Linked DNA regions of Homo sapiens: region 2 is linked to region 1. Evidence: fine-mapped expression QTL. Tissue or cell type: whole blood. Region 1 holds a variant in brackets; the other region holds the start of a gene. All regions are shown on one strand. Distances are between the middles of the regions.

Region 1 (5,068 bases):
TCTTTTGTGCCCCACATGGTTAGAGTTGAGAGTGGACCTGCTTTGAAGGCAGGGGTGTCCTGTGCAGTAGTGACCCTGGGTGGCACTGGAGAGCCTGGCAGGGCCTGTGCAGCACTTGTAAACCACTGGTCCCCTCCCTTGCTGCCTGTCCCAACCTCCTGCTGGGTTTCCTCGAGGGTCCCGGGGCTCCTGCATGATCCCCCACGGTGTTCTCCCTCTTGCAGCCGTGGAGCAACTGCGTGTGCACGTCAGACGGCACAAGGGGGTGAGGAAGTTTGAGTGCACCGAGTGTGGCTACAAGTTTACCCGACAGGTAGGCCAGGGCCTGGGCCCCTTCCCCTACCCTAGGATCCCCCAAAGTTCTGAGCTCACCCTCCCCGCCAGGCCCACCTGCGGAGGCACATGGAGATCCACGACCGGGTAGAGAACTACAACCCGCGGCAGCGCAAGCTCCGCAACCTGATCATCGAGGACGAGAAGATGGTGGTGGTGGCGCTGCAGCCGCCTGCAGAGCTGGAGGTGGGCTCGGCGGAGGTCATTGTGGAGTCCCTGGCCCAGGGCGGCCTGGCCTCCCAGCTCCCCGGCCAGAGACTGTGTGCAGAGGAGAGCTTCACCGGCCCAGGTGTCCTGGAGCCCTCCCTCATCATCACAGCTGCTGTCCCCGAGGACTGTGACACATAGCCCATTCTGGCCACCAGAGCCCACTTGGCCCCACCCCTCAATAAACCGTGTGGCTTTGGACTCTCGTATTTCAGCCTGACAGTCTGTTCCCGTGTCCTGGAGTTGGGGAAGTGCTGCCTTCCCACCCACGCCTTCAGGAGAGAGTAGTGCCCTGCCCGGTCCTATGTGGGCCTCAGCTCAGCTGGCAGCTTCCCCTCCTGTCAGGAAACCTCAGCTGAGCGAGGCTTGGATGGGGTTCCTTTGGGGGCCAAACCTCTGGCCTTGGCTGCTCTCCACATCTGTATTCTGTTCCTCATTACTGCAGGATTTTAGAGTGGGGAACGCTGGCCAGTTAGAGCACCAGTATTCCTATTTTAGAGCTGAGGTGATACCGGCTTCTGGAGATAGAATTCATTACTAAGCTTCTGGAGTTCAGTAGAGTGATCAGGGCCCACGGGGCTGGCCTTGTTGGGCAGAATCAAGGATTGGGCCCAGTTAGTGTAGCTGAGCACGCCTGGGGGTCTGAGGAGGGTGGGGCCCTTCCTTCAAGCAGCCTGGTCTGTGTCCAGGAGGCTTTGGTCCCCACGTTCTATAGCTGTGGGGTACTGTGTGGCAAGGAGCAAATGCACGTGGGCCTTAGAGCAGATTGCTGTTGTTTAAATTTCTTCCCAACTAAGTTGGCCCTGGGTAAGTTACTGACAGCTTCATTTCTCTACTGAAAATACAAAATTGCTGGGTGTGGTGGTGCATCAGGAGGCTGAGGCACGAGAATCCCTTGAACCCAGGAGGCGAAGGATGTAGGGAGCCGAGATTGCACCACTGCATTCCAACCTAGGCAACAGAATGAGACCTTGTCTTTAAAAAACAACAACAAAAAAAAGAGGCCCACTGTGGTCTCAACACTGCTCTCCTTCCCAGCCGAGACACTGGCCTCTCCCTCAGGTTCAGATGGACTCTGCAGATAGGAAAAACATCTTGAGCCAGACGGCTTGTGTGGATTCACAGCCTGGTTTGGGACTGTATTTGAAGGGCTCCACCTCCCCAGGTCCAAGGGCCATCTCATCGCAGATGGGAGTCTCATCACCACCTGTATGTACCGCAATCTCAAGAAGGGCTGTGGGAGCCGGGCCCGGGCAGAGGACCAACAGGCAAAGACCAGCTTTGGAGCAGGCAGGTTTCCTGGGCATCATCTGTTCCACAGCATTTACTTCTCAGGCCTCTCTCTTTAAATGGAGACAAGGTCTTCCCGTATTGCTCAGGGTGGTCTTGAACCCCTGGGCTCAAGTGATCCTCCCTCTTCAGCCTCCCAAAGCACTGGGATTGCAGGTGTGAGCCACCACACCCAGCCTCTGGGGCATGTCTTTTCCAACGCTTCATCACTTGCTACAATCTGAGATGAGAAAGGGCCTGGAAGGCTGTTTAAGACCCTCAGTGTGAACCCTGGGCTCCATGCTGCCTGTTCCCCTGACATCTGTCCTCAGCCCAAGAGTCCCAGAAGACAGTAGCAGGAGGACAAAGGCAATGACTCCAAATGGATAGGAAATACTTTTATTGCAAAAAGTACTGAAGGTACCCTAAAACCTTAAGCAGGATTCTGGACATGGAAGCCTACAGAATAGACAAAAATAAATATGTCAACCTGCCCGACCCTCTGGGGTGAACTGGATGTGGACACTGGAGGGAGGGCGTCCTTTATTACATACGCGTCTCTGAAGTCATATAAATATAGAATACCTTATAGTAGATCAGCATTAAATACCAGTCACTGTGTTTATATAACTTAATTTGTGCTGTAGACAAAGTTCTGTACATGTAACATGTGGCCATGCCCAGGCATCCCA[G/A]CATCTATCCTGAAGTCAGTGTAAAGACATCCTTAAGTGGTGGAGACATGACAGCCCAGAACCCACAGCAGAGGGAAACTGGGGAGAGGAGGGGGCCTGACCCTGGATCCCCCAGCTGGTGTCCACAGGCTAGAGGGACCCATTGCTGCAGAGGCTGGTGCCTGGTTTTCCCCATACTTGGTCTTCTAAACCCAAAGACAGGGTCCTGATGGTGGAGACCTGGGTAGGTCCGGAGGACAGACACAGGAGAGGGCACAATCCCAAGCGCAGCTCTCCTGCACTGGCTCGCACCACAGCCCTCATCTGAGTGGCCGACACAAGCCTGGAGTACGGCAGCTGCCAACCACAGCAAAGCCGCAAAAAAGACTGAGAAAACAGGAACCCAGAGTTCCACAGGGGCAAGGCCTCGCAGACCAGCCAAGCCCGAGATGCCCTGTGCTGGCAGTCATCACAGTCTGGACAGCATGTCCTTCCGTGGGTGCCCAGCTCAGTGCCTGGAACGGTCAGGGATTGAGGGCGTAGCCAACCTTGTATGGCCAAACCCAGCCCTTACGCCCCTGCTGACAAGGGAGACAAGCTGCCCCGCTGAACTCCAACAACCTCTGGGTGGGCTCAGCAGCCCCTAGGAAGTTAAGCGAGAGCTACAGGGCAGGGGGGCTCCCTGAGGGAGTTTGCACAGACCAGGAGGGGCCAAGGGGTAGCCCCAAGGGAGCAGAGGAAGGAGAAGGGCAGGAAAAGGTCCAGGGCACAGGGCAAGCAACAGTGCCAGAGGGTGCCTGGTCACAGGAAGCCCAGCTGCATGTTCCATGCTGCCCACAGGACTCCCAGCCAGGCCCCAGCAGGCCTGGACAGTGCTGGGCCCCCATCCTCGGCCTTCCCAGCACAGCAGGTGCTGGAAGATGACCATGACCCAAGCGAGAAGAGCCGCCATGAACTGTGGTCATACCAGCCAGGGCGTTCTAGGACAAGACTTCCTAACCCGACAGCAATGACATCCACAGTGTATGGACTGGGCTCTTGAGGAGCACGAGGGAGAGGCCAGGCAGCCCTGTCAGGGGTCCTGGGACATATTAAGGCAACCAGCCACGCCATCTGGCCAGCACAAGGGACTTAAGTGCAATCTGCTAAGTGACAGTGCTAAGACTGTCTTCCTGCTGAGAACATCTCTACGAGTTAGTTCACTAGAAAAGGCAATAAACATTTGCTTTAACCTTCTTTAACCAGGAAAATGCAGTCTAAATGCCCTCTTCTCTAAAAAGGAGGCAAGGACAAAAACTCAAGCCAAGGCTACTTTGGGTACTTTGAGGGGAAACTGACCATTTCCAAGAGAAACCCAGGGGCTGCCAAGCTGCGGCATTCACCCTCCTGCAGAAAGCTTTGGCAATGGGACTTCTTAGACTGGACAAATCAAACAAAGCTGACCCTGTAGAGCTCCTTCTTCTTCCCACTTCTTCTAAGGTCAAACTGCAAGCATTTTCAACTTTGGAACCAACCACCAAAGCCACCTCCTGCCCAGGACTTCCTTTAGAAGCAGTGGGACTCCTCACGCGCAGGCCCAGCAAGGGCTTGGGCACCCGCAGCTGTCTGCTTGGCTGGGTGTCAATGATCACCTCCCAGGGCCTCCCGGGAAGGAGAGGGTGAGAGGTGAGGACGCAAGAGCCAGTCAGGGGGTAGGAGCAGGGGGCTATGGCTGAGGAGGCCCAGCATCTGATAGGACCACATCCTCTTCACCCTCCAAGCCCACACCCCTGCTCATGTCCCACTGTTCTGGGTGCAGCCTCTGGAGGGCAGCCCTCTGAGGTGTTTTGATGTAAGCCCCTGGCAGGGGCCAGGAGCTAGGGAGGCAGGCTCCCCACACCTCTGGACATGGAATTTGGGACCCCACTTCAGCCCGTCTGCCTGGTCCGCTGCTCCAGGTTCAGGCCATCCTCAGCCTCATGGGAGGACCCCTTCTCCCTTCACGCGTCCCTCCCAAGTCATCGTCCTCTCCCAAGGTGGGAACAAGTAGGTGCAGATGACAACGGCAGGAGGGGTGTGCGCCGCGTGGGTGAGCTGTGATCCGCGGGGTGGGGGTGACCTCCAAGACCCAGAAACATGTGCTGGCAGGAAAGTGGCTCTTCCTCAACTGCAGGGAGGGCGTTCCCGACGGCCTCTGATTCAGGCTCTCAAGGTACAGAAACCTTCCAGGTAATGGATCCTGGGCTGGCTTCGCCACCCAAGAGCCTGTGCTCCTCCTGTGAGCCCAACGTGTCCTTGTGCACAAAGGAGTGGGGCACTGCCCCGCAGAGGTGCCAGTTACCTGCACCGAGGCCCGTGCCGGGCCAGACTGGGGCTAGTGCAGCTCATCGGGGTCCCGCGGCGGCCGGGGTCGGCCTGGGTCCATGTCATCGCTGCCACTGTCCAACTCGAAGCCACGCCCACCCGAGAAGGTCTGGGGCATGAACTGGCGGAAGATGCTGACACTGCCATGCCAGAAGGTGGGTTCTGGGAGCCGCCCCACCACGCTCCACGCGCGAGTCTCTGGGTCATAGGCCTCTACCACGTCCGAGAGTTCAAATGTATTGTCG
Region 2 (5,115 bases), 34 kb after region 1:
TGGGCTCAGGCCAGCTGTTTGCGAGTGTGGGAACTCATAGGTTCTGTCTTTGTCTCTTCCTTTCACCTCATTCTGGTAGCAGCATAAAGGTTAGGCAATCACTGGGACCCGCATGGTGTTCCTCCAAAGAATAGGGTAAAGGAGAGCTGGGAGGGAGCCCTCTCCGTTGGGTGACTCTTGTGTGCCCTTTAGACAGGCTGGCCTGCCGGTTCCACAGGGTACAGTTAGGACTTGAGTCTTTCTTTTTCTGTTTTGAGTTGGTGAGTGAGTGATAGGGTAACATGGGCCTTCAGGATGACCCCTTGGAACTGTGCCGAGTTCCTTAAATCTCAGCTGGGATCCTGGACCTGGGAGGCCCCTGTGAGGGCCAGCTCTGGAAAAACCTGGGAGTTGATGCCGGAGGCTGTGGAAGAACTCTGCTCGAGGGCAGGGTGCCCTGGAACACTGGTAGTTCTGGGGCTGGGAGGGAGAGGGGCTCCGGCTTTCTCTGAAATGAACACTGCTCTTCAGCAGTTCAAGTACTTGTTCTCAAAACATTTTCTAATTGATTGGTAGGTTTTCATAAGCATTGTTTCTTTAAGGCATGGAAAGGGAAGAATGCTCAAGCAAGTCATGTTTGTTTTCAGTGGGATGGGCCCGCGTTCTCACTGCTGGGGGCTTCCCCTTCATGTGGCACCTTTGTGCCAGGCCACCAGGCAGACTCTTCCCACCTTCTCCCACTGAAGCACCAAGGGGCTTGAACCGTAATTTGGCTAATCAGAGGCATTTTTTTTGTCCTAGTATCTTTCACACTTGTCCAACCGTCTTATTTTTTTAAAAGTTCTGTTGCTTGTATTAACACGAAACTAGAGAGAAATAGTTTCTGAAGCCAGTTTATTGTGAAGATCCCCAAGGGGGAGGTTCGGTAGAGAAAAATAGTAAGCTGGTTTAGAAACTGACGAGGGCAAACAGCCAGGACGCATTGGAGAGGAATTTGCCAAAGATCTACCCTGAGATAACGCCTGTCCAGTGTCTTCACCACGTGAATAACCAGCGCTCCAAAGTGTTTTTCTGCTTTGAAAAAAAAAAATTCCACAAGCTTTTAAAGGTGCATTTAAGAATCCATGTGACTTTAGAATGGAACTGCCGGCCCTGGCAACTGTCACGTGTGCTAGAAGGTTCGATGCCTCTGGAATGCATGTGATACTCATCTCCATTTTGTTTCCTTGATTGCATTTTTGTTCTTTTAGCAGATCTGTCCCTGTGGGTGGTGTCTAAGAAGTCGGACACCTTGGTTTTTGTGTTAGATTGAGCTGGGCAGCTGCAATCAGCTTCTTTATATGCAAATTAGGCACGACCCATCTGTGGTTCCTGGTTGGTGGCTAATGAAGTGAGGGGAGGGAGGGATGTCACCCCAAAAGTAGGCCCTCCCATTGGCTTTGGCCAGGCCAGACACTTCACATCGTTTACATGGTTCTGTGTAATTTTAAAGTTTATGTGTATAAAGCGAAGCTGTTTCTGTGAAACTGTATATTTTGTAAATAAATATATTGCTACTTTGAGGTTCATGATTCAAGGTTCAGGCGATTGCGTTCTGTGCTGAAGGACAATTGTGTTTCTTTTCTCCTTGCTACCTCCCCAAAGCATGATTACATCAAGTCTCTGGGAAGGCAGCGTCTCAGTGTGCACTTAGCAGGATGGAAAATGCCCACGGTGTTAAGGTACCTTGCTGGTGAATTCCTTAGAAACAAACCACAGGACGAGTAGATGTGAATGGTTTTTGCAGTTTCTTCATCAGATTGAGGATTAGCTCAAGCCCCAGTGAGTGGTTAGCCTACTTTTGATTTTTTTTTTGTTTTTGAGACTTGAGTTTCGTTCTTGTCACCTAGGCTGTGAAGTGCTGTGATGAGATTTTGGCTCATTGTAACTTCCACCTCCCGGGTTCAAGAGATTCTCCTGCTTCAGCCTTCCGAGTAGCTGGAATTACAGGTGCCCGCCACCATGTGCGGCTAATTTTTGTATTTTTAGTAGAGATGGGGTTTCACCATGTCGGTCAGGCTGGCCTTGAACTCCTGATCTCAGGTGATCCGCCTGCCTCGGCCTCCCAAAGTGCTGGGATTACAGGCGTGAGCCACTGCGCCTGGCCGATTTTTTTTTTTTTCTTCTTACAAGATGACGCCTTCCCTATAGGCTGCTTTGAGAAAGCTGCAGCCTCGGAGTTTCTGCAAGGCCTGAACTGGAATCTCCCTCCCCTTCAGTTGCCCTTTTTGCCTCTTCACGTTTGGGGGTTCCCTGTGACCAAACTTAAGGGCAGTGAGCTGTCTGGCCTCTGAACTGACACCACCAGTGGCCAACTAGTACCACCTCCAGTGACGTCAGAGGAGTCCAGACCTATTCACAATTCAAAGCCCTAAAAACACTGAGGGGTTGGCCGTTGGTTTCCAGTTGTCCAAGCCTGTGAGTGGCTATGCGTCCTGGTTGGGTGCTCAAAGCAAGGAGGTGAAAGGCGACCAGCATTGGCGAATGGGGTAAGACTTGCACAGGCCCAAGGCTAGGAGTTGGGGTTTCGGGCCTGAATTGGGGCCCGGAGCACCCCTTTACGTGGCGCCCCGGGTCCCGTCCGACCCTGGGGAGACGCGGGTGGCTGGGATGGCAGGATGAGCGCGCCCTGGAGGCGAGCCAGGCCCGTCACCACCTCCCAGCGGCCCCGCCCCTCCCCGCAGGTCCCTCCCCTCTCCGCAGGCCCCGCCGCCGCCGCCATCTTTGTTGGGGGCAGCCAGGCCTGGCTCGAGATGCCGAAGTCGTGCGCGGCCCGGCAGTGCTGCAACCGCTACAGCAGCCGCAGGAAGCAGCTCACCTTCCACCGGTAAGAGGCGGGGACCCGGGGGCGCGGGAGGCCCAGACCCGGGGCCCGCGGACCGACTCCGAGGCCTTGGCGCGCCGGGCGGGAGGCCCAAAGGCGTGCGGCCGCTGGGCCCGGGGACAGGCCGAGGTCCTGGGCCCAGAGGGGCTGGCGCCGCCGCGCCCGCCGCGGGGATGCGGGGAGTGGCGGACGGAGGGGCAGCGGCGCACCTGGCGGGGCCAGGGCCGGGACGTGCAGGGAGCGGAGCAGGTGTTTGCTGAACAGACTAGCGGGCCGCGGCCGGGGTTTGCTGTGTCCCTGGTCGCTGCAGCCCCCGCCGCGCGCGGTCCTGAAGGGAGCCCGGCACCTGGGCAGTGCAGTGGAGGAGTGGAACCCCCAGGGGCGTCCTGGCAGTGGGAAGGGACTCTGCAGGGTCGCGGGAGGACGCTGGAGACTTTGGAGTCTGCTCCAGCACTCGCCCGGCCCGGCCCGGCCCGGCCCAGGAGCAATCGTCATTAGTCACAGTTGCGCTTTCTCCAAGGTCCAGTCACGGCACCATTTCTCTACCCACTTTTGGGCACATTCCGAAGGGGGGCTTGTGCTCATCGTTCCCATTCCCTCTGCTCCCATTGTTCTGTTTTGTGATAAATGCTTTGCTTGAAGTATACGTAATGTACATGCAGAAAAATGCACGAATCATAAGTATACAGCCCAGCGAGTTTTCCCCAAGTGAACGTCACTGAACTGAAACGTTACCAGCTGGGCGCGGTGGCTCAAGCCTGTCATCCCAGCACTTTGGGAGGCCGAGGCGGGAGGATCGCTTGAGCCTGGGAGTTCGAGACCTGCCTGGGCAACAGAAGGAGACCCTACCTCTACAAATAATTTAAAAAAATTAGCCAGGCAAGGTGGTGTGCCCCTGTAGTCCCAGCTGCTCGGGAGACTGAAGTAGGAGGATCGCTTGAACCCAGCTTCGAGGCTGCAGTGAGCTATAATCTTGCCACTGCACTCCAGCCTGGGTGACAGAGCGATACCTCATCTCAAAATAAGAAATAAAACATCACTACCCCCGAGAAGAACCCCTACCTGGACCCCCTCCCAGGCCCTCCTCCTCTCTCCTGCCCAAAGGGAACCCTATCCTGCCCGCTATCAGAGTGGATTGCAGTTCATTCGCTTTCGTTGCCACATAATATTCCATTGAATGCAAGTGCCAGAATTTACTGATTTGTTCTACAATTGAAGGGCATTTGGGTGGCCCCATTTTTTGGATGACAAATACATGGTTCTGGAGGCTGGGCGTGGTGGCTCACGCCTGTAATCCCAGCACTTTGGGAGGCCGAGCTGGGTGGATCACCTGAGGTCAGGAGTTGGAGACCAGCCTGACCAACATGGTGAAACCCCGTCTCTACTTCTCTACTACAAATACAAAAATTACCCGGGCGTGGTAGCGCGCACCTGAAATCCCAGCTACTCAGGAGGCTAAGGCAGGAGAATCACTTGACCCTGGGAGGCAGAGCTTGCAGTGAACCGAGATCGCACCACTACACTCCATCTTGGGCAACAGAGCGAGACTCCGTCTCAAAAAACAAAACAAAACAAACATTGTTTTGGCCAGTTTTGGTGGGACTTGTGTTGCAGTGCATCTATCTGTTTTGCCTCTGTCAGGTATGTACTTGGGGATGGAGTTGCTGCGCCTTCTCTCTTGAAGTCGTTTCCTCCACTCCCACGAGAGCTCTGTCACATCACTAGTGAGCCTTGTGACACTGATCGATTGCATAGCATTTCACACAACTGACCCCTGAGCCTGGGTCACTTTTCCCGCATGGCGTCTGGTACACTTCTTGGCCACAGGTGTCTCTTCTCAGTCTCCTTTGCTGGATCCTCCTTATTTCCAGCACTAAGTGTTGGAGCCCTGGGGTGTGGGCCATGGCCCAGGGGTGGCTTCTAGCCACACTTGCTCCCCAGGGGCCCATCTCACCCAGGCTTATCGGTTCCGCAGGGTTGGCCGCCACACTGACATCTCCAGATGCGTGTGGCCGCCTGTCACCCCAGCACATGGAGAGCCTAAAAAGCACCTCAAATTTAACTCCTGACATAAAAAACAAACTTCTTTTTTTGGAGACAGACTCTCACTCTGTTGCCCAGGTGGAGTGCAGTGGCGCAGTCTCGGCTCACTGCAGCCTCTGCCTCCCTGGTTCAGGTGATTCTTGTGCCTCAGCCTCCCAAGTAGCTGGGATCACAGGAGTGCGCCACCACGCTGGGCTAATTTTTGCATCTTTAGTAGAGATGGGGTTTCA

Direction of the effects. Alleles are on the strand shown, and positions count from the first base shown. SD is a standard deviation of normalised expression in the study named.
As copies of G replace A in region 1, the expression in whole blood of the gene that starts at base 2,421 in region 2 goes down (small effect, 0.20 SD a copy in GTEx).

The links. PIP is the estimated chance that this variant, and not a neighbour inherited with it, causes the effect.
Region 2: it holds the start of THAP3, and the variant in region 1 is fine-mapped to the expression of THAP3 in whole blood (GTEx, PIP 0.96).

Annotation. Positions count from the first base shown.
Region 1 is chr1:6,588,532-6,593,599 of GRCh38, forward strand. ZBTB48 (zinc finger and BTB domain containing 48) reads left to right here. Exons shown (of 11, transcript NM_005341.4): 10 at 225-313; 11 at 385-749. The coding sequence ends at 681. It overlaps KLHL21 (kelch like family member 21), which reads right to left. Exons shown (of 4, transcript NM_014851.4): 4 at 2,193-5,068. The coding sequence ends at 4,834. Among named protein-coding and RNA genes, the nearest start is that of ZBTB48, 11 kb to the left of the region's middle. The variant G/A (reference allele first, on the strand shown) is at 2,502.
Region 2 is chr1:6,622,448-6,627,562 of GRCh38, forward strand. It overlaps THAP3 (THAP domain containing 3), which reads left to right and starts at 2,421. Exons shown (of 6, transcript NM_001195753.2): 1 at 2,421-2,507; 2 at 2,703-2,845. The coding sequence starts at 2,772. PHF13 (PHD finger protein 13) reads left to right here. Exons shown (of 4, transcript NM_153812.3): 4 at 1-1,583. RefSeq lists a silencer at 2,812-3,221.